3 linked regions of the Homo sapiens genome follow. The protein of the gene in region 3 purifies or fractionates together with the protein of the main gene of each other region. This does not show direct contact. Each region holds a gene or a part of one and is shown on either strand. Other genes may lie near its edges.

Region 1 (7,028 bases), on a different chromosome or scaffold from region 3:
ATCTAATAAGGAGTTCATATTGAAAATATATAAGGAACTCAAACAACTCAATAGCAAGAAAACAAATACCCAATTTAAAAAATGGGCAGGTGACTTGAATAGGCATTTCTCAAAAGCAGACATAAAAATGGTCAATGGGTATATGAAAAATGCTCAACATCACTACTCATGAGGGTAATGAAAATTAAAATCACAATGAGCTACTACCTCACATCTGTTAGAATGGCTATTATAAAAAAGACAAAAGATAACAAGCACTGGTTAAGACCTGGAGAAAACAGAACCCTTGCACACTGTTGGTGAGAATATACATTAGTACAGCCATTATGGAAAATGATATGAAGGATCCTCAAAAAATTAAAAATGAACTATCATATGATCCAGCTTCTAAGTATGTATCAAAAGAAAGAAATCAGTATGTCTAAGAGATATCTAGATATCTGTACTCCCATGTTCATTACAGCATTATTCACAAGATATGGCATCGACGTATGGTATTCTACACACTGGAATACACTATCAACCTTAAGAAAGAAGGAAATTCTTTCATTTGTGATAGAGTGAATGAACCTGGAAGACATTATATTAAGTGAAATAAGGCAGACACAGAAACACAAATATTGCATAATGTCACACATGTGGAACCTAAAAACATCAAAATCGCAGAAGTAGAGAATAGAATGCTGGTTGTCAGGGGCTGAAGGATGGGAGGGTTCAGGGAAGGAAGATTTAGGAGATGTTGGCTAAAGGGTACAAAATTTCACTTAGACAGGATGAATAAGTCCTGGAGATTCATCGTATAGAATGGTAACTGCAGTTAATAATAATGCATTAATACAGGCACACCCCTCATTTTATTGTGTGTTGCTTTATTGCACTCAGCAGATATTGCACTTTTCACAAATTGAGGGTTGGGGCAACCTTGTGTCAAGCAAATCTGTTGGTGCCATTTTTCTTACAGCATGTGCTCACTTCATGTCTCTGTGTCACATTTTAATAATTTTCACAATATTTCCTTTTTCATTATTATTATATCTGTTATGGCGATCTGTGTTCAGATGTTACTATTTTAACTGTTTTAGGGCACCACAAACTGCACCCAAATAAAATGGTGAGCTTAATTGATAAGGGTTGTGTGTGCTCTGACTGCTCCACTCACCAGCTAGTCCCCCATTTCTCTCCCTCTCCTTGGGCCTTCCTATTCCCTAAGACACAGCAATACTGAAATTACGCCGATCAATAGCCTTACAATGGCCTCTTAGTGTTCAGACGAAAGGAAGAATTGCACATCTCTCACTTCAAATCAAAAGCTAGAAATGATTAAGCTTAGTAAGGATGGTATGTTGAAAGCTGAGACAGGCCAAAAGCTAGGCCTCTTGCACCATACAGCCAAGCTGAGAATGCAAAAGAAAAAAGTTACTGAAGGAAACTAAAAGTGCTGCTCCAGTGAACACACTAATGATAAGAAGGCAAAACAGCCTTATTGTTGATATAGAGAAAGTTGTGTGGTCTGGAAAGATCAAACCAGTCATAGCATTTCCTTAAGCCAAAGCCTAATTAAGAACAAGGCCTTGACACTCTTCAATTCTATAAAGGCTAAGAGTGGTGAGGAAGTTGCAGAAGTCTGAAGCTAGCAGAGGTTGGTTCATGAGGTTTAAAGGAAAGAAGCCCTTTCTATAACATAAAAGTACAAGGTGAAGCAGCAAGTGCTAATGGAGAAGCTGCACCAGGTTATCCAGAAGATCTAGCTAAAATAATTGATGAAGGTGGCTAGACTAAACAACAGATTTTCAATGCAGAATTAACAGTGCTCTATTGGAAGAAGATGCCATCTAGAACTTTCCTAGCTAGAGAGAAGGCAATGCCTGGCTTCAAAGCTTCAAAGGACAGGCTGACTCTCGCTAGGGGCTAATACATCTGGTGACTTCAAATTGAAGCCAATATTCATTTACCATTTAGAAACTCTTAGTGCCCTCAAAAACTATGCTAAATCTACTCTACCTGTACTCTATAAATGGAATGTGAAAGGCTAGATGACACCATATCTGTTTGCAGCATTGTTTACTATTTTAAGCCCACCATTGGGAACCACTCAGAAAAAGATTCCTTTTAAAATATTAGTGCTAATTGACAATGCACCTGATCACCCAAGAGCTCGATGTACAAGGAGATGAACGTTGTTTTCATGCCTGATAACACAACATCCATTCTGCAGGCATGGATCAGGTCTTATTATTTAAGAAATATATTTTATAAGGCTAAAGGTGTCACAGATAGTGATTCCTCTGATGGATCTGGGCAAAGTAAATTGAAAACCTTCTGAAAAGGAGTTACCATTCCAGATGCCGTAAGAACATTGTGATTTATGGGAGGAGGTCAGAATATCAACATCAACAGGAGTTTGGAAGAAGTTGTTTCCAACTCTCATAGATGCGTTTGAGCGGTTTAAAATTTCAGTGGAGAAAGTCACTGCAGATGTGGTAAAAAATTACAAGATAATTAGAATTAAAAGTGGAGCCTGGAGATGTGACTCTATTGCTGCAATCTCCTGATAAAACTATAACGAGTGAGGAGTTGCTTCTTGCAGATGAGCAAAGAAAGTAGTTTCTTGAGATGGAATCTATTTCTGGTGAAGATGCTGTGAAGATTATTGAAATGACACCTGAGAATTTAGAATATTACATCAACTTAGTTGGTAAAGCAGTAACAAGGTTTGAGAGAACTGACTCCAATTTTAAAAGAAGTTCTACTGTGGGTAAAATGCTACCAAAAACATCACATGCTACAGAGAAATCTTTTATGAAAATAAGAGTCAGTCAAGTGTGTCACTTTGTTGTCTTATTTTAAGAAATTGCCACTGCCATCCCAACCTTCAGCGACCATCACCTTGATCAATCAGCAGGCAAACATCAATGCAAGACCCTCCACCAGCAAAAAAATTGGGAAATGCTGAAAGCTGAGATGATCATTAGTATTTTTTTAGCAATAAAATAATTTCAAATTAAGATATGTACTTTTAAAAAGATATAATGTTATTGCACACTGAATAGACTATAGAGTAAACATAACTTAAATGCACTGGGAAACCAAAAAATGTGTGACTTGCTTTACTGTGACTTTAGTTGTATTGTGGTGGTCTGGAACTGGACCTGCAGTATCTCTGAGGTATGACTACATGAAAATTGCTAAGAGATTCAATCTTAAATTTTTTGCCATGAAAAAGTAACTATGTGAGGTGGATATTCATTTGTTTTAGTCATTTCACAATGTATACTTATATTGAACCATCATGTTGTACATTATAAATATACGCAATTTTATTTGTCAAGTATACCTTAATAAAGCTGAGGGGGAGGGAGGAAGAAATAAACTTTCCAGTGTCAACTTATTAAGAATGGAGTTAAATTCTCAAATCCATATTTTTCACATTCAGATTTTTGTTATGGACTGGTCTATTTTGGCATTACTATAAAGAAATACCTAAGGCAGAATAATTTATAAAGAGATTTATTTTGGCTCATGGTTCTGCAGACTGTAGAAGAAGCATACTGCCAACATCTGCTTCTGATGAGGGCCTCAGGAAGCTTTCAATGATGGCAGAAGGCAAAGAGGGAGCAGGCATGTCACAGGCAAAGAGAGGGAGCAAGAGAGAGGGGGAAGTGCCATGTTTGTTTTAAAAAAACAACCAGTTATTGCATGAACTAATAAAGCAAGAACCAGCTCATTACCCATTGGGAGGACACCAAGCCATTCATGAGAGATCCTCCCCCATGACCCAAACGCCTCCCATTAGGCCCCACCTCCAACACTGGGGATCACATTCCAACATGAGATTTGGAGGGGACAAACATATAATGTTCTTACCATGACCCTGGTAGTTGTAACAGAAGGAAGTATAATGGGCCATTATATTTTTAATTTTTAAAAATATCAATATACTGTTTTGAGAATAAATTTTACAATGTTAAATGTGTTTTCTTTATTTTATTTTATTTTAATTTATTTTGAGATAGAGTCTCACTCTGTCACCCAGGCTGGACTGCAGTGGTGCAATCTCACCTCACTGCAGCCTCTGCTTCCTGGGGTCTAGTGATTCTCCTGCCTCAGCCTCCCAAGTAGCTGGGATTACAGGTGTGCGCCACCACACCTGTAGATGGAGCCTGGCTAATTTTTGCATTTTTAGTAGAGACAGGGTTTCACCATGTTGGCCAGGCTGTTGTTGAACTCCTGACTGCAAGGGATCTGCCCACCTCAGCCTCCCAAAGTGCTGGGATTACAGGCGTGAGCCACCACACCTGGCCTTAAATTTGTTTTTAAAAATATCATTAAGGATAGTAGCTATATAATTATTTTCACACATTCTCAAGTGCTATAATCTATGAAAAAATAATTATTATAATAATTAACTCCAAAAAGATATGCATGTTTATCTGGGATTCAATTAATTTAATGCAAAAGCCTTAAAATGGTCATAACTTCTTCAAATTAATCCTATAAAATATAAAAATAATCCTAAATATGTACAAATATTTAGTTATAAAGATGTTTATCATGGCATTTTTTAATAGCAAAACATTAAAAACAGCCTAGATGGCCAATGATTGGTTAAATAAATTATAGTATATCCTTATGATTTAATACAAAATAGTATTGTAGAACAACTCTTTATAAAGAAAAATGTTAACTAAACATTATGTTTTGAAAGATCCAAATTCTGGAGCTGGGCTGGGTGCAGTGGCTCAGGCCTGTATTCCCAGCACTTTGGGAGGCCAAGGCAGGCAGATCACTTGAGTTCAGGAGTTCAAGATCGACCTGGGCAACATGGTGAAACTCCACCTCTACCAAAAATACAAAAAATTAGCCGGGTATGGTGGCACATGCCTATAGTCCCAGCTACTTGGGAAACTGAGATGGGAGGATCGCTTGAGCCTGGGAGGCAGAGGCTGCAGCGAGTCGAAATCCCACCACTGCACTCCAGCCTGGGTGACACGGTAAGACTCTGTTTAAAAAAAAAAAATTGGAGCTGGTAGAAATTTGTGTGTCTATACACAAAATAGAGTATATATACAAAAATTAACAGTCATTACCTTTTGGCAGAATTATGTATACTTTTTTTTACCTTTTTGTTTTTTCCTGTAGTTTCAAAATTTTCTCCAGTGAAGATATACATTTGGAAATCATATTAAAATGTTATTAGGGAAAAAGTGCTTCTCACACCTTAATGTGCATATAAATCAGCTGGGAAATCTTGTTAAAATGCTGATTCTGACTAAGTAGGTCTAGGTGGGACCTGGGATTCTTCCTCCTAACAAGCTCCCAGGAGATGCTAATAATGCTGGACAGGGACCACACTTTGAGTAGCAAGCTGTCTTCTAACTCTGTCATATGGCTATTTTTGCAAAGCACAAGCAAGTAAAAGCTTCTCGTTATGTTAGTACAGTTGATATAGTACTTGCATTGCTAAATGGCTCATGGAATGATTTCCTGATTTCAACATCATTTAATATCCCAACTATTTTAGTTTTACTATAAAGTCTGCTTGTTACTTAAATTTTTATTGGAAATCATGATAAAAATACACAGGTAACACTGAAAATTGGTATTTACTAGAGCCAGGTCAGCATTTGACTGCTTTTGGTTAATGGCCATGGGCTTTTAAAATAAATTGCAAAGATCACAATAGCACAAATTAGTAAGAAGCTCATTTGTGTAATACTGCAGTGATGTTTAATGTTAATTTAACAAATAACTCAAGATTTATTGAAAATTATGCTAGTAATACTGAAATAAACTGACAAGTTATTTGCCTTCAAGGAGTTCAAAATCAAACATGAGAGACAGATACATAAGGATTAATAGTAATGCATTTTAAATATTATAAACTATAATATATATAGTATACAAACTATACCATATAAATACTATAAATAAACCACAATAAAAGTTAAGTATAAGATGATATAAGAACATAAGGAAGAGCACAGACTCTAAGAAGGATGAAGGATAGATGAATAGGATACATTGGTGGTTTTGTTACAGAGATGATACCTGAGAGGATGCCTAAAGTATGGGCAAATCTCACCACTGGTAGAAGTGAAGAAAGAGAATTCCAGACAGAAGCAGCAACTTGAACAAGCACTGTTGTAAAAGGAATCCATTATCTGACTATTCATTGCCATGCTGACTGTCACGTCAAAAGCGTTAGTTCTAATTAAATGCCCAGCAAAAACGGAAGATGTATAGTAGCTATACACATTTCTCTGTAGTAAAGTAAGTTAACTTATCCTGTATTATGCTAGTTAAAATCTTTAGGCTCTTTTAACAAAGGTTGCATTATATTATTTTCCACTTTAAAAAACTGCATTGGCTCCCCACTAATACAGCGTAGTACAAAATTCTGGATGTCTAATAGAAAACTTTTAAAGTTTAAATCCAGAACCTAATTTTCTAGACAGTATCTTACTAAACCTTTTAAGTAAGTTCTAAATGTTCATATTTTCAAATACTTGTGTATGTTATTTTCTTAAAATAACCTTCTTCTCTAGGTCTCAAAATTCTATTCATTCTTTAATATTTTTGAAGTCCCCCATTTTCTCTTTAGTAACAACTTTTTTCTTACACTTAGCTTCCACAGTAAGCTTAGACATTTTAAAGCAACTATTTCATTATGCCTTGAATATTATATTATGTTTGCTCTTCTTTTTGGGGGTAAGAACTAGATCTTATTTTTCCTGGAAACTTGCTTACTTACTATGATATAGTAAATACTCAAAAAAGTTTTACCAAATGAGTAGAAATTGACTATTATCAAGAAGCTTATGGAATAGTTTCAAGTGGAAAAAGCTGATAAAAAGACAAAGGTGGAAAGTCTTTTAGCTGAGAAGTTAAAATGATACAGATTCAATGGGCTAACAAATAGGAGGTAAACTGTCTGAGAGATTGTATAAAATTTGCAAAGGTAAAACTGACTGAAGTGGTCTACTGTAACCACTTTATGATTTTGCTAGAGGACATCCATAATCAAAACT
Region 2 (7,028 bases), on a different chromosome or scaffold from region 3:
TTTGTGGTTATTATTGTCTCTATTCCATCATTTGTTGTATGTTTGGTATGTGATAAAAAGATGCTTGCTCTTTTAATTCATAGGTCTCTATATCAAGAAGGGCTATATCTGGACCTGATGTAGATCATGAGATCCTGGATTTCAAAGATGTGATGGAACTTTTAGGGGTTTTGGGATAGGAGTGGGTCAATTTTTGCATGTGGTAAAGACATAATTATAATCAAGAAAGCAGATCGTGGTAGATTAAATTACTGGTCGCAATTCTTCACTACCCTGTAGTAGTATTATGCACACATGAAGCCTTTGCTATTGGTGAACAGTGTATTTCCTCATCCTCCTCACTTTGGGCTTCATTAGATGACTTTCTTTTGTATATGGGATGTCAGTGGAAGTGATATGAGCAAAAGCTTGAAATATTCTTGCATGCTGGGTTTTCCTGCTTGTCTTCTGTGACCAGCATGAGAAGAGCTTGTCCTGGATAACGTCTTTCAGCAGGGGCTCAGAAAAGGACACGTGAAGCAGAGGCACTGTGCTGCAGCTGACCCTTGGGCCCACAGCCTGAAGCAGACCTTCCTGTCAGCCCACAAACCCACAGCTTAGAGCTGACCTGAACCTAACCTTGAGATTGTAGTCCAGCCTAGCTTAGCTACATTACCACTGACCTACAGACCCAGGAGAAAATATAATTGTCTTAAACCACTAACTTTGGAATGGGTTGTGCAGTAGTAGTGAGATAATCACTGGCCAATATAGGTTATTGCAATAATTCACAAGGCTATCATGGGAACTAGGACCAAGGCGGTAACAATGGAAGTGGTTAGAAGTAGGCAGATTCTGAGTATTATTTTATAGGTACAGCCCACAGGTTTTGCTGATAGATTGTATATGGGGTGTGAAAGAAAGTGACGCATTAAAGATGAATCCAAGGTTTTTGGCCTGAGCAAATGGAAGAATGGAGCAGCCATTTTTGAATGGAAAAACTTGGGTGTGGGGGAAGTTTCAGATTTGGGGGCAATATCAGGATTCATTTTTTATATGTTACTTTTGAGATGCCTATAGACATCCAAATGGGGATGTTATGTAGGCAGTTGAATATAGAAGTTCGCAGGCAGAGGAGAGAAAGGTCTGGGAGTGATCATTAAGAAGATTGGATTTTAAAGCTATGAAACTGCAGGAAATCAAGTGAGTGTAGAAATGGGGTCGAAAGACTGAGCCTAAGGGCACTTAGCATTTAGTGGTTGGGGAGTTGAAGAGTTACCAGTGAAGGGAATTGAGAAGGAACAGCCAGAGAGATAAGAGGAAAACCAGATAAGTTCTAATAAAGTGTCATTCATATGTGTTGTTCTCATAATATCACATCCATTGCTCACCTTTTCCTTTTCCTCCTTCACTACCAATATCACTACCATGAGATCTGTGTGTGTGTGTGTGTGTGTATGGAATGCATAGTGCTAGTCACTTTATGTGTATAACAGGAGAATTACTGAAAAAGCTAACTCATCTTTTTTTTTTTTCCTGCTATATACTCACTAGGGAAAAAATCCCTTTTTTCCTCTTCTGATCTCTCCAGGTCAGGGAATCTAAGTCTTTGCATAAATTCTGGGTCCCCCCTTGACAATCCGCTAAGCAGGATGGCTCTGTCTGAGAGGGGAAGGTGTTAGAAGCTGGTGCTTTCAGTGGAATGGGAGGGACGAACAGCTGGAATCCTGGAGGAGAACTGATTTCTTTTCCTCTGTAAGCCTGGAGGAGAGGGGTTAAGGAGGAGAGGAAGGGGGATATTAGAGACTTGTGTTTAGCTAGCATGAAACTCTCTACAGTGGCAGCAAGATTTTGGAAGGAGAAAGGCTGCCTGTATGAGTGGACATTAGAGAATGAAAGCCACAACCTTGAAAGGGTTGGTGTGAATCAACTGTGTTTGAGTGGCGATCACTTGGGGGAACCTCTGTTGCAGAGCCTGATAAAGGCTCAGTGCCAGGGAAGGGCAGTGAGGCACCTGAAATAAAACTGCTTTGCAGAAAGAGCATGTCTAAGCCTAGGACAAGGATCAAAGTGTTTGTAGGAGAGTATTTGTTGTGACAACATAGACCTGGTTTTAGAATCTCCTCAGGACTGAGCCATCCTGGCTTGTTTTTAAGCTTTGGGGGAACACTGGCTTTGTGACTATAAACCAAGAGAGATGTAATCCTGGAACTAAATCATGGGCCATCCACTATGGTGCAGGCAGGAATTGGAACCAGCCAGAGAATCACCTCAGTCTGCTGGACTATGCTACAACATTATGGTAGAAGGCAACAGCATTAACTAAATGGTAAGACTCCACTTTCTACCTTTTGTATTGGGAAGAGAACTGCACCCTTTGGTCTAAGACATGAACCCTCAGTTTCTTGGACAATCAAGGGTGGAGAGGCCTCAAAAAGGAGAGACGGAACTTTCTAAAACTAAGGCACTAGGGATTTGAATGAATCATTGAAAACATAAAAGAGATAAAGCCTCTGAGTTTGTTAAACAGGCATTACCATTGTATATTTAAAAACTTGGGAAGTTTTAACTGAAGAAGGCAGCATGATATGATAGCTTTTGCTTTTTACAATATGATGTTATTAGTCTTGTTCTGTGTGGTTCTGGAGAGCAAAACAATAAAGCATTGTAAGTTGTATGAGTGTAAGAACAAGTATTCACTACTAATTCCCAGCACATGAATAGTACTCAATACATTTTCAATAAATGATTGAATACATGTATGATAAATGAAAACCAGTGGGTTAAACTTACAAGGAGGCAGAGGCTTTTTTTTGTTTTGTTTTGTTTTTGAGACAGAGTCTTGCTCTGTCGCCCAGGCTGGAGTGCAGTGGTGCGATCTCGGCTTACTGCAGCCTCCACTTCCCAGGTTCAAGCGATTCTCCTGCCTCAGCCTCCCGAGTAGCTGGGATTACAGGTGTGCGCACCACGCCTGGCCAATTTTTGTACTTTTAGTAGACATGGGGTTTCACCATGTTGGCCAGGCTGAAGGAGGCAGATTTTTGTCCCAGCTTATCTTTCTAAAAATTCCAAAATTAAATAGACTATCCTTAAAAAGCAGTGAAATTCTTTACCACTAGGAGTGAAACAGGAGCTAAAGAACATTTTTGGGGGATGTGATAGAGAGGATTTATTCATTTGATAATAGTTAGAACACATAACCTCTGAGATCTCTGTAATCTCAGATACTTTAGTTCTATAATTCTAAATCCAAGGGTCTCTATAGATAGGCTTGAGACAAGTGTAAACAAACTCATGATCTCAGAGAAATCTTCAAGTGGCATGTTTCAATGGTATGCTTATTAAACAAATGCTCATGACAGATTTTCACAACAGTAACGAATGTTATTTCACAACATCAAATCTTCCTTCCTCAGGAAGAAATGACATTAATAAGAAGGTTGATGGATTTGGATTATTTTTCATGTTTCCTGGAGGTAAAACCAGTGTCCTCACTTGTTTTCCTCTTTTTCCTCATTTTGAAGACTATTTGTTTTCATTTTCTTTGCCTCCTCTCTGGCTATGTGTCCCCGGAAGGCAGCTTGGATTTTGACAGCAGCAACCTCTTCTTTTTCCTTATCTTCCTCAGAAGAGTCCTTCATCGAAAGGAGAAAAAGTAAGAGACTCTTTAAATATGGCGTAGTTTTGATGCCACAAAAATAAATGGATGAAATTTAATCATTTTAGGGATGCAACTATCTGAGAGCTGTTGCTTCCTGAGGGAATTTCATATATTGTCACATTGTATATGTACCAAATGGCAAATGCCAAAATAGCAGGCATTTTGTTTTGTCACTCTTTTAATATGTCTCTGCAACAAAAGATCATTGCCAACTTTCTTTCCCCTAAAATAGTGCCTATTTAAGTTTCCTGAGCAACAACATTTTTTGGGGGGTTGGGGGGACAAGAAAGAATCCTTGAGGCATGGTAAAAATGTTAAGAAGAAAGAACTGTAAATGTTATGTTTCAAAATAATCACAATTACATATAATGAATTAGAATAACTTCTCAATTTCTCAATGATTAGTTAATCATCGTCATACATTTAAAGTGAGGTGCCAAAGAGAAATCCATTTAGTCCAATAATGTCAGTTTTAACAGGGTTGGTTGAACTTTGGCACATACCCTCTTTTAAAAAAATTGGGTATAAATTTTTAGCTATAAATTTACAGACAGTAAAATGCATGAATCTTCAGCGTACAATTGAATATACAGCTTTTAATATATCTTTTAAAATTATAGAAATGACATGTATACACTTTAAAAACTCAAATGTCACTGGCAGTGATAGTTTTCTCCACCTATCCAAATCCTGCTCTTGGGAGATACCCATTATTATGAGTTGAGTATCTACATCCTTCCAAAATTTCTCTATATGCAAATATATTCATATGGGTATATATATATATATATGTCTTTTTATTTTAAAAATGAGATCATCCTAATCACAGAGTTCTGCAGCTACTTTTTCCATGTAACGATATATCTTGGTTCTCTTTTTCTGTATTATTAGTCAGTGTATAACTCTCCCCATTCTTTTTTTATGACATCATTATATTATACTGATGTACCTTGATTTAATATTTACTCAATCTCATATTAATGGACCTTTGGGTTGCTCAAGCCTCCTATCCCCCTATTATAAATAATGAGACAAATCTAGCTCTTAAACTTTTAAATGCAAACAGAATGGTATAAAATTCTTCGAGATGACATCCTAATATAGCAAACAAATACACTCAAGTTGGAAATCAATGAGATCCCTACTCAAACTCATGAAAACCTGTGTAAAAGCACCTATGAAAGATGTAAGGAAATAAAACTCCCTTCTTCCTTGACTTCCTGTTACATCTTAATGTTAATCTTCCTGTTATATCCTAATGTAATGTTATTTCAGTACAACCCAATGGCAATTGTGGAACAACCTGTAAATCTTATAGGGAAAAGCAATGCATCACTAGGTAGGAAGTAGGGTATTCCTTGAGGGGATATCCATTCTGGCTGCCAGTTCTTGGGCAACTACCTGGGACCTGAGACATAAAAAGGAACTCAGAAGTTTGAACTTCGACATTTTAGAGAGTGAGTTCTTCTTTCTTATGAGGCCTAGTCCACAAGAGTCTGGAGTATGAAGAATATAGACAATGATGTACTGGTAAGTGTTTTAACAACTGGCTCTCCAGAAGAAACAAAGCCCTGATTTGCAGTGTTTGCCATGGTCTTAATATTCTCATTGTGGCTGACTTCAAGTTATTAAAGTGACATTACTGAACAATGGGCCTTTGAGGGTGGACTTCGCTATGTCTTTTTTTTTCTTTTTTTGAGAAGGAGTCTTGTACTGTCGCCCAGGCTGGAGTGCAGTGGCGTGATCTTGGCTCACTGCAACCTCCGCCTCCCGGGTTCACACCATTCTCTTGCCTCAGCCTCCCGAGTAGCTGGAACTACAGGCGCCCGCCACCATGCCCGGCTAATTTTTTGTATTTTTAGTAGAGATGGGGTTTCACCGTGTTAGCCAGGATGGTCTCAATCTCCTGACCTCGTGATCTGCCTGCCTTGGCCTCCCAAAGTGCTGGGATTACAGACGTGAGCCACCACGCCCGGCCTCCGCTATGTCTTGACTGCTTGGATGTAGTACATCAGGCACGAAGGCATTTTTGTAGAGCGTTATGCATGGAAGATGAATAAGCCACATTGTTGTAAAGCCATTATTTTGGCTGTATGTAATTCCCTGTGATTTTCCTTTTGTTATCTCTGAAATTTGCCATTGTGTAGTGGTGACAGCACCAATTAGTGAAAAATTCCCAAAGTGGAAGATGAATCTGAAGGATCATGACTGGGTCTGTGAGTTCTGTCTGCCCTTCCCCATAGGGAGATTTTTCCATCCATTAACAATCTTGAAAAATAAGATTTCATTTTTAAAGGAAAAATGAATTTTTGATCAAGAGAGGCATGGCTGAAAATTATCTACCAGTTAGTTTATCACTGATGTTAATTATCTGGAAAGTAAAGTCATAATTTTGACAATAAAGATAACAGACATTCATATTTGGAGTTCAGTTTTAAATTGGGCAATATCATTCTTTGTAGGAATCCAATAGTACATGAAAAATATTACATACTAAGATGGTGACTGATGTCTCTTCCTCCTTCCCAGATATCTGAGACTCTTCTTGTTTAGGATCACTTTTCTCAGGTGGTTCTTGCTCCTGGACAGATAGGAGAGAGCCACAATTAGCAATGTTTCCAAAATGGCAAAGTCTTGTATCAAACTGCTTAGAAGTAATGAAACATTACTTTAAATTACTGAGAAATAGGGGGAATTAAATACTACGTATTTATCTTTTAATAAGGAAAATACATTGAAACAAGAAGAAATAATAAAAGCTCTTAAGGAAATACGTGTAAACAAATATTAAAGACCAAATAATTGGCAAAAATGTTTGATCTGTTGCTTTTGGAATGTGTGTACCACTGTTTTATGTTAAAAATAAACCACTGTCCTATACTAAAAGTTGATAAGATGATGTAATGAATCCTGAACAAAGTATAAAAAAGAGGATCCAATAGTTTCTAAAATAGGAATAAAATAAATGGCATTGTGTTCCATAATGTGACATCAAATTGACTTTTTAGTGACGTTTATGGATTAAAACTAGTCAGAGAAGTAAGTTTTGCTGTGGAGTTTTGCTTTATGATTTAAATATAAAAGGAGAAACCACCTCTGCCTATTTTGACATGGCTATTTAAGTCTTCCTTCATTGCTAATTCACACCTATGGAAAGAGCTTCTTTAACCCATAAAACCAAAATTTAAGAATATATAAGTTAATCAAATAAAGCCTTTAGAATTAAAAAAAGAAACACCCCAAAATTGCTATGTGATGCAAGGATTTAAAATCTTTCAACATTATTCCTTTGACTTCGATAAACATGAATACAAATAAAACATGAGCACAGAGAATCTAGTAAAATGGAAATACACAGAACACACCCATACCTGCAGGCACAAATGGA
Region 3 (7,028 bases):
ATGTGAGAATAAGGCCAGGCGCGATGGCTCACACCTGTAATCCCAGCACTTTGGGAGACTGAGGTGGGTGGATCAGGAGGTCAGGAGTTCAAGACCAGCCTGGCCAAGATGGTGAAACCCCGTCTCTACTAAAAATACAAAAATTAGCTGGGCGTGGTGGCAGGTGCCTGTAATCCCAGCTACTCGGGAGGCTGAGGCAGCAGAATTGCTTGAACCCAGGAGGCGGAGGTTGCAGTGAGCGGAGATCGTGCCACTGCCCTCCAGCCTGGGTGACAGAACAAGACTCTGTCTCAAAAAAAAAAAAAAAAAAAGGAAGAAAGAAAATGTGAGAATAGGGCCCTACTGCTCTTTCTCAATCTTGGAGGGAGAAGAGCAGCACAGTTGAGAGCATGGGCTGTGAAGCCAGACACTGTGGGTGTACAGCTCAGTTTCCTCATTTTCACATGGCAGCAACAGGCCCTCTGTCTGTGACTCAGGGCTCCTGTAGGAAACTGTTGGCATATTAAAATGAGGATAGCTGTAGAAGGGTTAAGTAAGGGAATATTTACAAAGGTGTGGCCAGATTGCAGGGCAACAGAGGAAGGTGCAGCTCCCCGGGGCTAGTAACAGTGGGCCTAAAACGTTGAGGGGAGAGAATGCTTACCCTTACCACACTGGGAAGCTGGGAGAGCGCCACCCTGAAAGACGCTGGGGACTTCATGCAGCCAGCCATCAGCCAACTCGCAGGGAGAAAACCACCAGGGACATACATTTTGACTTCCTGATCTCCTTATTGTGTGGAACCCCCTAGAAGCCAGAGGGCACCATTTATGGGTGCAGTCAGGTTAGTTTTCCAGGGCAGGAAGCAGGAGGAGATGCAAGGACAGTGGATTTGGAAAGGCAAATGGAAGGTGCCCAGCGCACTCTTTCATAGGGCTGTGATGACAGTTAAATGAAACATAGCACATTAAACACCCCCAAATTGGGAGCTGTTATTTATAGAAAAATAGCTCCATTTGGAGAGAGATACCCACTTTCATGTAGCCCTTCCACTCAATGGAAGGATTGCTTGCAACATACTTATTTTTTATTTTTTGAGACAGCCTTGCTCTGTCACCAGGCTGGAGTGCAGCGACACAATCTCGGCTCACTGCAACCTCTGCCTCCCGGGTTCAAGCAATTCTCCTGCCTCAGCCTCACGAGTAGCTGGGATTACAGGTGCTGGCCACCATGCCAGTCCAACTTTTTTTTTTTTTGAGATGGAGTCTCACTCTCATTGCCCAGGCTGGAGTGCAATGGCGTGATCTGGGCTCACCACAACCTCCGCCTCCCAGATTCAAGCGATTCTCCTGCCTCAGCCTCCCGAGTAGCTGGGATTACAGGCACGTGCCACCACACCTGGCTAATTTTTGTATTTTTAGTAGAGACGGGGTTTTGCCTTGTTGGCCAGGCTGGTCTTGAACTCCTGACCTCAGGTGATCCACCCGCCTCGGCCTCCCAAAGAGCTGGGATTACAGGCATGAGCCACCAAACCTGGCCCAGGCCAATTTTTGTATTTTTAGTAGAGATGGGGTTTCTCCATGTTGGCCAGGCTAGTCTCAAACTCCTCACCTCAGGTGATCTAACCCCTTGGCCTCCCAAATTGCTGGGATTACAGGCGTGTGCCACCGTGCCTGGCCATGTTTTTTATTTTCTCTGAGACAGGGTCTCGCTCTGTCACCCAGACTGGAGTACAGTGGTGAGATCACGGCTCCCTGCAGCCTCGACCTCCCAGGCTCAAGTGATCCTCCTACATCAGCCTTGTGAGTAGAAAGCTGGGATTACAGGCACACATCACCATACCTGGCTAATTTTTTAAACTTTTGTAGAGATGGGGCCTTGCTATGTTGTCCAGGCTGATCTCAATCCCCTGCACTTAAGCGATCCTCCCACTTTGGCCTCCCGAAGTGCTGGGATTACAGGCCTGAGCCACTGCACCCGGCTGCCTGTAAGGAATTTAAAGCTGTGCTGGAAGTAAGCAATTTTTCATAAGCAAAGAGACTTAAACAGTAGCAAGAAAAGAAAGGATTTAAGACTCAAGGGAAAAGATGTAAAAAACATTGAAAATGAGGAAAGACTTCTAGCTCTGTGATGGAGCCATCTTTACAGCCCTAGTAACACAAATTTTCACATTGTCAATACATGTTAAAGGCATCTGGAAGATTATAGCTATCATTTATGATAAAAATCTTACTAGAACAGGAACAGACGAATGTTTTCTTGATGTGATACATCTCAAACCACAAACCAGCATCATACTAATGGTGTAACACCAGAAAGCAAGGCCATTAAAGTCAGACACAATAGGAGGATGCTCATTATTTCCACTTTCATTTTACATTTTTCTGGAAGTATTAACCAAAGCTAATACTCATAAGAGATATATACTCCTGGAAAAAAGATGATAAAAGTGACAGTTTATTGGAGATGATATAATTGTATACTGTACTGGAAAAACCCAAGAGAGAGAATTATGAAACCAATATTCCTCTGCTGTAATGCCTCTACTCATTTTAACACTATCTTTATAGGCCAGGTGTGGTGGCTCACACCTGTAATCCCAGCACTTTGGGAGTCCAAAGTGGGTGGATCACTTGAGGTCAGGAGTTCAAGACCAGCCTGGCCAACATGGTGAACCCCCGTCTCTACTAAAACTACAAAAAATTAGCCAGGCATGGTGGCACACGCCTGTAGTCCCAGCTACTCGGGAGGCTGAGACAGGAGAATCACTTGAATCCGGGAGGCGGAGGTTGCAGTGAGCCAAGATTGTGCCATTGCACTCCAGCCTGGGCGACAGAACGAAACTTTGTCTCAAAAAAAAAAAAAACACTATCTTAGCCGGCGCGCTGGCTCACGCCTGTAATCCCAGCACTTTGGGAGGCCGAGGCGGGTGGATCACCTGAGGTCAAGAGTTCGAGACCAGCCTGGCCAACTTGGAGAAACCCCATCTCTACTGAAAATACAAAATTAGCCGGGCGTGGTGGCGCATGCCTCCAATCCCAGCTACTCGGGAGGCTGAAGCAGGAGAATCACTTGAACCTGGATTCTCCCGGGAGGCGGAGGTTGCGGTGAGCCGAGATAGCGCCATTGCTCTCCAGCCTGGGCAACAAGAACAAAACTCTGACTCAAACAAACAAACAAACAAACAAAAAACAAAACACTGTCTTTATACTTTTTTTTTTTTTTTGAGATGTAGTCTCCCTCTGTAGCCCAGGCTGGAAGGCTGGAGTGCAGTGGTGCGATCTCGGCTCACAGCAACCTCTGCCTCCTGGGTCCCGGTTCAAGCAATTCTCCTGCCTCAGCCTCCTGTGTAGCTGGGATTACAGGCATGAGCCACCATGCCCAGCTAATTTTTGTATTTTTAGTAGAGACGAGGTTTCACCATGTTGGCCAGAGTGGTCTTCAACTCCTGACCTCGTGATATGCCTGCCTCAGGCTCCCAAAGTGCTGGGATTACAGGCGTGAGCCACCGCGCCGGGCCTTTATATTTCTTTTTAAAAGTTAAGACAGGTTGGGGAGTGGGGAGATCTCACTATGTTGCCCAGGCTGGTTTCAAACTCATAGCCTCAAACTGTCCCCCTGCTTCAGCCTCCTGAATAGCTGAGATTACAGGCACATGCCACCACACCCACTTCATTTTAACATCATTTTAAAAGAGCCAGGTGCCCTCAGTTGCTCCTAGCAGGGATTGGGTTTCTTATCAAAGATTCAACTTGGAATCAATATTGCTAGGCACTCCAAAGAAGTGCTACTTTTTTTCTACTACATTTTGATTTAAGTCATTATGGTGTTTTTTTTGTTTTTTGTTTTGTTTTTGAGATGGAGTTTTGCTCTTGTTGCCCAGGCTGGAGTGCAATGGCGCGATCTTGGCTCACTGCAACCTCCACCTCCCAGGTTCAAGCAATTGTCCTGCCTCAGCCTCCCAAGTAGCTGGGATTACAGGCGCCCGCCACCACACCCGGCAAATTTTGCATTTTTAGTAGAGACGGGGTTTCACCATGTTGGTCAGGCTGGTCTTGAACTCCTGACCTCAGGTGATCCGCCCGCCTCGGGCTCTCAAAGGGCTGGGATTACAGGCGTGAGCCACCGCGCCGGGCCTCATTATGATTTTGAGAATGTGAGAATCCTTGGTTTTCAGGAAAAGTAGATAGCAGCAGCCAGGCACAGGTCTGACTCCTACCCTTAAACCCCTAATCCCCTCCCTAGAGGCAATAACTGCTTCCTGTCTCTTGTGATTCTTCAAGAGATGATCTGTACTTATATGAGTGCGTTCACATGTGTGTACACACACAGGCACACAGTAACTTCTTTTTTTCCCCAGGAAAAAGAAAATGAGTGAGACTCAAAATTCAACAAGCCAGAAAGCAATGGATGAGGATAACAAAGCCGCAAGCCAAACAATGCCGAATACACAAGACAAGAACTACGAGGATGAATTGACTCAAGTAGCTCTAGCTCTGGTTGAGGATGTCATCAATTATGCTGTTAAGATTGTGGAAGGTAGTGATCCTGTTTGTTTGGATGCCTAAATAATTGTCTATATAGTCTAAATATAGCACCACACTACCTGGCAACTAACGAACTCACACCTTTTTTTTGCAGAGGAGCGAAACCCTTTGAAAAACATCAAGTGGATGACTCACGGTGAATTCACTGTGGAAAAGGGTCTTAAACAAATTGACGAATATTTTTCGGTAAGTTAGGCCGACCACTCCAGCATGGTACACCGGTGTGAAGAACAATAAAGAGACTCTCAGCAGATCAAAAGTTTGAAGTCTGGAAAATCTAGGAGATGGTATCAAAGGGGGCTGACTAGAATAAGTAAACATCATCTCCATCTCAGTTCCAAAATCAAGGTGGGATAGTCTTTGAAGGTGAAATGCACAATCACAATCATTTTCCCTGTGTCTGTATCATTCTAACCTTACATTTCCCTGGGAAAATCTGCTCTTCCTACTTAAGCAATTTGTCCATGCTGGTGCATTAAATGGGGGCCTAGTGGCCTAAGGAGGGAGATGCTCCTCCAAAATAGGAGTTCTCCACCACCATTATTTTGTTTATTTTTTTTAGAGACAGGGTCCCACTCTGTCACCGAGGCTGCAGTGCAGGGGCTCGATCCTAGCTCCCTGCAGCTTTGAACTCCTGGGCTCAAGCGATCTTCCCACCTCAGCCTTCCAAGTAGACAGGCACGTGTCACCACACCTGGCTAATTTTTAATTTTTTTTTGTAGAGACAGGGTCGTGCTATGTTGCTCAGGTTGGCCTCGAACTCCTGGCCTCAAGGGATCCTCCTGCCTTGGCCTCCCAAAGTGCTGGGATTACAGGTGTGAGCCATTGCACCCAGCCTCCACCACCAACTTTAGAATGCTCCTGTTAACAGAGGGGATGCAGATGGATCAAAAGACTTTTTGATTTGGCTTTGGAATATATTGCCTGCATAGTAAGATGTACAATCCCATGAATTCCTTTGTTCTTCTGCCTGTGTCTGACTCTGACTTCTTCGTGTGGCAGCTTTGCTGAGAAGGCCCTGGATTACTTTGCATAACTGGTGAGTGAATAAAGGAGAATGGCTTGGGCCAGGCGCAGTGGTTCACATCTGTAATCCCAGCACTTTGAAATACCAAGACGGGAGAATCAATCATTTGAGCCTAAGAGTTTGAGACAGCCTGGGCAACATAGTGGGACCCCATCTCTATAAAACTAAAAAATTAGGCCAGGCATAGTGGCTCACGCCTGTAAGCCCAGCACTTTGGGAGGCCGAAGTGGGCAGATCACAAGGTCAGGAGTTCAAGTCCAGCCTGGCCAATATGGTGAAACCCCGTCTCTATTAAAAATACAAAAATTAGCCAGGCGTGGTGCTGGGCGCCTGTAATCCCAGCTACTCGGGAGGCTGAGGCAGAAGAATCGCTTGAACCCAGGAGGCAGAGGTTGCAGTGAGCTGAGATTACACCACTGCATTCTCAATCCTGGGCGACAGAGCAAGACTCCGTCTCAAAAAATAATAATAATAATTAGCCGGGCGTGGTGGTATGCACGTATAGTTCCAGCTACTCAGGAGGCTGAGGTGGGAGGATCACTTGAGCCCAGGAGGTCGAGGCTGCAGTAAGCTGTGATTGTGCCACTGCACTCAGCCTGGGTGACAGAGTGAGACCCTGTCTCAAAAAAAAAAAAGGCTTGAAATCCTTCTCATTGTGCTTCTGTGGAACAGAGACCAGTTGAAATTGGTGGAGGCGAACTCCCCTACCCCTGGGAAAAGTTCCAGCTCTCTCTGTTCCCCAGGCCAGCACCTCAAAGCCTACAGCCCTCAGGGCAGTTTCCCAGGCCTTAGGAAGGCCTGGTCAGGTGTGAAGGAGGAAAAGTCAGGGATTTCTGGCTCCACGCCTTCTATGCTCCAGCGGACGCCACTCACCGTTCTCATTAGGAGGGGTATCTTGAGCATAGTGAAGATGAATGGTGCAAGTTATTCTTGAGCCTTCCTGCTGTGGAGCACTTCTCCATTTGGGGTTGGGCAAAGGCCCCTGCCTACTGCACTCAGGGTTCCTGAATCAAACTAGAATGGAACACATAGCAAGTAGGAAAAATTTCCCTTGCAAATCCCACTGGTCATTCTGAGTAAAAGGCAAAAGTAAGTCCTGACAATGGTCTACAAGGCCCAATATGATCTGAGTTCCCTTTCCCCTCCTGATTTATGGTTCAGCTCCCATCACTCCTTCCCCCCTCTCACCTTCTTCCCTCGGCCACACTTGCCTCCTTGCCGTTCCTCGACTGCCAGGCATGTTCCCCTGTCAGGACCCTTGCTCTTGCTGTTCCCTCTGCCTGGAACCCTCTCCCCTAAGATGTATACCCATGGCTCACTGCTTTACCTCCCTTCAGATCTTTGTTGAAAACTATCACCTGCTCATTGAGGCTTTTCTTGGCCACTTCATCTAAAATCACAACCCTCTCCACTTCTCTGATTCATTTTTCCCTTCGCACTTCTTTCTGCCTACTAGAGTCTATTTACTTGTCCTA

The links.
Region 1: the proteins of AKAP14 (region 3) and PRKACB purify together in Homo sapiens (affinity purification with mass spectrometry; 3 studies listed by BioGRID and IntAct, with this or other methods). This does not show direct contact.
Region 2: the proteins of AKAP14 (region 3) and SPA17 purify together in Homo sapiens (affinity purification with mass spectrometry; 3 studies listed by BioGRID and IntAct, with this or other methods). This does not show direct contact.

What each region holds. Positions count from the first base shown.
Region 1 is NC_000001.11:84,147,256-84,154,283, reverse strand, and holds part of PRKACB (cAMP-dependent protein kinase catalytic subunit beta), read right to left. Parts: intron 1-7,028. UniProt on the Homo sapiens protein: Mediates cAMP-dependent signaling triggered by receptor binding to GPCRs.
Region 2 is NC_000011.10:124,690,889-124,697,916, reverse strand, and holds the end of SPA17 (sperm surface protein Sp17), read right to left. Parts: intron 6,222-7,028; coding exon 6,135-6,221; intron 3,615-6,134; coding exon 3,471-3,614; 3' UTR 399-3,470; downstream 1-398. UniProt on the Homo sapiens protein: Sperm surface zona pellucida binding protein. Helps to bind spermatozoa to the zona pellucida with high affinity. Might function in binding zona pellucida and carbohydrates.
Region 3 is NC_000023.11:119,898,875-119,905,902, forward strand, and holds part of AKAP14 (A-kinase anchor protein 14), read left to right. Parts: intron 1-4,339; 5' UTR 4,340-4,349; coding exon 4,350-4,518; intron 4,519-4,620; coding exon 4,621-4,712; coding exon of another isoform or gene 4,713-4,721; exon of another isoform or gene 4,722-4,785; intron 4,786-7,028. UniProt on the Homo sapiens protein: Binds to type II regulatory subunits of protein kinase A and anchors/targets them.